2 linked regions of the Homo sapiens genome follow. The protein of the gene in region 2 purifies or fractionates together with the protein of the main gene of each other region. This does not show direct contact. Each region holds a gene or a part of one and is shown on either strand. Other genes may lie near its edges.

The links. Proteins that work in one complex are often made in the same cells at the same time.
Region 1: the proteins of LACC1 (region 2) and SERPINB5 purify together in Homo sapiens (affinity purification with mass spectrometry; 4 studies listed by BioGRID and IntAct, with this or other methods). This does not show direct contact.

The regions. Positions count from the first base shown.
Region 1 is NC_000018.10:63,479,958-63,483,457, reverse strand, and holds part of SERPINB5 (serpin B5), read right to left. Parts: intron 1-3,500. UniProt on the Homo sapiens protein: Tumor suppressor. It blocks the growth, invasion, and metastatic properties of mammary tumors.
Region 2 is NC_000013.11:43,892,168-43,894,432, reverse strand, and holds the end of LACC1 (purine nucleoside phosphorylase LACC1), read right to left. Parts: 3' UTR 501-2,265; downstream 1-500. UniProt on the Homo sapiens protein: Purine nucleoside enzyme that catalyzes the phosphorolysis of adenosine, guanosine and inosine nucleosides, yielding D-ribose 1-phosphate and the respective free bases, adenine, guanine and hypoxanthine.

The DNA.
Region 1 (3,500 bases), on a different chromosome or scaffold from region 2:
CTTAAAGTAACTAATGCCTTTGCAGGACACCCAGCACATAACAATACTTAATAAACAGCAGCGGTTATTGTTTGCGTTTATAATACGCATCTGTGTGTAAGACACTACCCAGAGTGTTACAAGGATCAGTGGACCTCCTCCTTCTCTAAGCTCATAGTCTCTTTGGGCAGATATGCAGACAAATAACTAGAATACAGAGCTGCCCAAGACATGTGAGTGGTATAATAAGTAATATGGGAGTTAAAGAAAAGAGGGAACAGTTTCAAAATATGTAGCCTGGTAAAGTGGATATAGCAGCAACTAGGCATCTTGTCACATCTCAGAGCTCTTTAATTTTAACACAGCAACTTCCAAAGTGTTGTGTCTTGACTCCTGGCAGTCCCTAACACCCTTTCAGGAGGTCCATGAGGTTAAAACTATTCTCATGATAATACTAAGACATTATCATTCTCAATCTCTAATAGACAGCGGAGTTTTCCAGAGGCTATATGACATCCCTTCTATTAAGCCAAATATTAAGGAGATTTGCAAAAATGAAAAACAATATCACTCTTCTCATTACATTTTTTCACTTTAGAAAATGTTTTTTAATATATATATTATTCATATTAGTATTTAATTATTATATTATTTTAATAAATTAGTAAATGAACATTTCAAAATGTGTCTGGTTTTCATTTCTAGTTTGGTAAATAGTGATAGATATAATCTACATTTTTTTTAAAGAAACAGTTCTTTGGGGTCCTCGGTAATTTTTAAGAGTGTAACAGGGTCCTCAGATTTAAAAAGCTTCACTGTTCTAATAAAGGTCTACCTACCTATTTAGTCTGGTAGTTACTGATCGACTCCAAAGACAATTAGGTAAATTCAGGCAGTCAGGGCTTCCCTTTCTGGGAGCAGAGCTGAACTACATGAACTCCTGAGGTTCTGCCTAAGCCAGGACAGCATGTTTCTAAGGGAAATGAATTGATATTACTACCCCGGGGTGAGCAGTACAGGGATTAAACTCGAAGTGTTCCCCCAAAGCCTCAGGCGCACACACACAGACACAAGGGCCGAATGTGACATTGAAGGTCTTCAGGTAGGACATGCACCCTGGCATTAGAAAGTAAGCTCCACTGCTTAAGATAGAGGACTCCCTTTGGCCAGTACCCAAACGTGTGTCAAGAGTCAAAGGCATGATGAATAGGATTGCAATTTGCACCTTATACCTGGACACAAATTCAGAATGCAAAGACGAGAATAAGATGGAGGAGAGGACTCCTGGTCTTTAAACATTTCTTCAGAATTCTCCCTTTTATGGGATATATGGCTTGTGTGTAGGATGGACTTAAATCGATTATATCTCAGAGTCTGAAAAAGCGAGTTCATTATCCAAAAATAATGTTTTATTGACTCTGTTCATGCTCACTGGTCATTTCCATGGGCTTCCTCCTTCTCCATATGTCCCTGATAAGTACAGCCATGCGCTCAGGCCAGTTCCCATTGCAAATATACCACGAGGCCCCCTGAAGTCAGGTGGGCCTCTCACTTTTCTTTAAAGCCCACAACCTTACTCCTTCTCCCCTCAGGGCAGGGGCAAGGGCCTACAGGTGACATCACACCCCAGGGAAAGGTGACTGGCATTAGGTGTATACTGAGGTCAGCAGGGTATACTGAGGCAAAAATGAAAGCCTGTTGAGTGTTTCACCCAGTGTGCCTGCCACTGGGAAAACATAAAGAAACTCTTCACAAAAGGTTTGGGGAATCTGTGGACAGACTTTCAGAATAGGAAACCTGGCTTCCTTCCACAGCACATTTAATATTAGTAATGCCAAGTTCATCTACAAGTAAAACTCAACATGTACAAGAAGTAATGAGTTATTTCTTCACCAAATAGAGAAGCCTAAACCCAGATCCCTGAAAGCTTCTTAACACTTCCACCAGTGGAGAGCTAATCGCACTGATAATAATATGAAAACACACAAACTGCTTTAACAAACACAAGTAGCTCCTCCAAGCACGTATTTATTATCCTCCAAGAGAAACTAGAATAATTTTGCATAGTCAATAACAAACTATACTTTTAGTGATTTCCTTTGTATAGAAAGATGGTGTTTAAGATCTTAATGTGCTGAGGGAGTTTGGCTGCAAACACCTACAAATGGATCTTAGGAGTGGATCAAATGGTGAGGAGATGTTCATTTTACCATTTTATTTCACTAAAGCATTATTCATTCACTTGTCACAACATTTTGAGATACATTTAGTCTAAATGATTGTGGATACAAGATCATTGTGGCTTTTAGTGTAGTTAATTACACAATACAATTAATGCTGTGTTGCAATTCAAGGCTTAGATCCAGGTCCCTGTTGGAGATGTAAATCAGTGCACATCTGACATCCTAACATCTCTGGGGCTTTCTCTCACCATTGGCGGACCTTCCCTTTGAGTGAGTCCCTTCCTTTGCATGCTAATCCTCAGTGCATGAACGCAAAGAGATCTGCCTTCCTGTTCCTATGCTGACTGGCTCCTTTCTCAGAAAATTCTCCTTCATGTCTGGGAAGGTCATACAGCCCTTAGTATCTGGGGTCCCAGTGGCAAGAGCATTGTTTGATGCTGGCTAAAGGAAACAGAAAAGGTCTGTACATGGAAAAGGTTGTAGTTGCAAAAAATCACCCACTAAGTAATCAATCAAATACTGCCCGGTAAATCTGATCAGTGGCTCTGTGATTAGTCCCAAGTGACCTAAAAACACTATAAAGTTGATCTGGTCTGAGGTAGCTCAAAAGATGACTTTGGCCACAGTTGCCACATGACTGTGTTGCAAGACAATCAAAGCATTTAAACAAACCTCAGCAATGTTAACAATACATGACCTGGAAAAAATACAAACTTCCTACACAGACCATTTTGCATGATCAAATGCTATAAAATTGCAAGTACCAGAGTAGAGATTAGCAATTCCTATATAATAAATTTAATGTGCCTAATGACTTCTGTTGAAAGTGCTAAAATTGCTACAAATTTTTTTTCATTCTGTTGCCTTGTCACAAGGGTCTTCTTCCATTTCTGTGAAAACCCTGTAACCATTTTAACAAGGAGAACTTCGTTTATAGTTGCAATGTAGAAAACGCTACATCTTTCAGCACTTAAAAGTTTAAAAGGAACTTTATTTTAACCATAGGAAAGTGAGATAGATGGAAGTTCAAGCAGTAATACAAATGCAGTTTTAAGAACTTATTTCCAAGTACCTTGCTTTCGCAATCTGTGCAAATTATAAACCTTGAAAGTGGGACAAGATCTTGGAGAGGATCTAGGCTGGCCACACCTCTTCATTTTACAGATGAGGAAAATGAGGCAGACAAAGATGAAGTGAGTCTCCCAGGCCACCCACGCAGGGAGTGAGAGTGGCAAAACCAGACCTAGAATTCATTGCTTCTAGCTCCCAGCCTGGCACTTCCCCGCCACACCTGATCACCTGCTTTCTTGTTAATTGCATCTTTGCTGGCATTTGTTC
Region 2 (2,265 bases):
TGTGCAGTTAGTAGCAGTGCTTAGATTAAAAACAAAACTTTAAGAGGAATAAGTTCTAGTGTTCTATACCACTGTAGGATAACTATAGTTAACAATAGTATATTATATAGTTTGAAATAGCTGGAAGGAACATATTAAATGTTCGTAACACAAAGAAAAATGTTCGAAATGATAGATATGCTAATTACCTTGGTCAGATCACTGTACATTATATGAATGGAAACATTATTATGTATCTCATGAATAGGTACCATTGTTATTTATAAATTTAAAATAAAATTAAAAACAAAAACAAAACTTACTAGAAATCTTTGTTGTTGTACCCCAAAAGTCCTAGAAACCTACATACAAATATGTGAGAGTGACAGCTATCTTGTAGACACAATAAGATGATTATTTAATAACCTGATAGTTTGGAGTTACTAAATCAACACTTTTCATTCAGTAAAGCAGCAAGGAGACAACCTTTCATTATATACTTTGGCAGAGATAATCCAAAATCAGATAATCAAAATAATTTTTATTTGGTTGTAGAATGTTGTAGTACATAAAGCAAAATGTGTCTGCAGGATACTCCAAATTTACCAACTTCAAACAAAATAATGCACAGTGAAGAATTAGAAAATTATCAACCTTACTCAATACATGGAAGTATTCCTTAATCTTCATCATTTTCATTAAACAAAATAATATTTTGGATGAGTTCAACATTTCTATCCTATGCTTTATGTTTAGTGCCTTCCCTGAATTGGAAAAAATGAGGTGTTTTATTTAAATTTAACACTGGTCTAAGGGAGATATAGAATTAAACTAAACAAGAATCGGTTATCACAACCTCACAACATATATCAAAGTATTGAGATTGTTGGTTTACTGACTGTCACTTTTCACTGGATATTAAATATCCTGAGGGCTACAACTGTATTTTTTAACCTGTCCCAGTACCTCAACAAAATTTTCACTGAATGTATGAATAAATTATGTTAACAAAAAGTTAACAATAAAAGTATAATGAAGATCCCTTTAATTAATTTTAAAATCTGAAAGGAAAACTGGAGTCACAAAACATATGTTCAAATCTTAATTCATCACAAATTTTGTGATTTTTGACCTCCACCTCAATGAAGCTCAGTTTTCTCAGCTGAATAAAAGGGATAATGCCTGTGTATTTCAGAGTAGCTGTAAAGGTAAAATGAGGCAATGTACATGAAAGTCCTTTGGAAATACCAAACAAATGTTATTTGCTATCATGCTACCACATATACATGTAGGAAATATATGTATTAAATAAGAATATTTTTAAGATGCAATGTGATAACTTACATTAAATATATATACAATTTTTCCCAAATGAAAACTAACCTAATTCCTCTCTTTAACTGACAAACACACTCAAAACTGCTCATCCAAAAAAAGTCCCTTCCTTGAAGATGTAGTCCCCAGCTTTTTCTCTTCTCTAGTAAATGCTGTCAGAAAAGAGTTGACACCTATGCATCTTCTTCCTAATGCACTGAAAGCTGACTCAATGACCACTGCCTATAGAACAGTTTCAATATGTTTAATCCATTGATTTCTTTTAAATTATCACTTTATTTTATCCCTGAAGATTTCTTTTTGAGTACTTTCCACACCTATCCTGGCTTCTTCAAAACAACTACCCTTTTTTTCTTACTTCTGTGACTATAAGGTTGTATTATTGGATCTCCTTTTTTCTCATCCTAATTTCTGCCTAGATGATCAAACCTGCTCCAATAGAATCAGGTATCATCTCTGTATTGTAAGCTTTGAAATATTTGTCTCTGTCTCAGGTTTCCTCCTAATTTCTAGGTCTATATTTCTAATTATTAACCAAAGATTTCTATCTGGATGCCCTTCATTCTATGTAAAGTCAAACTCATTATCCTTCTCTCTTTTTCCAAACCTTCTCCCTCCCTTTGTTGCCAATCTTGGTAAGCAGCCAAGCAGAAATCTTAGAGTCATTAATGACTTTTCCACTCTTCCTCACCTCTTACTTCCATTATCTAGTAACAGGATCTATTGATTCCATCTCTTAAATGTCTCTCTAATCCATCTACTCTCTTCCCTATTTTAATTTCCACTTCCTTCATTGGATCTTCATTATTTCTTTTTGAAATATTTTGATCGCCTCTTATCTAGTCTCTATGCTTTGGTCTCACACAATTTAAATCCATCCTCTTAAATATGATGCCATGGGAAAAAAAAAAAAAACATCCTTACTTTTTTTTTTTTGGCTGCCTACTCATT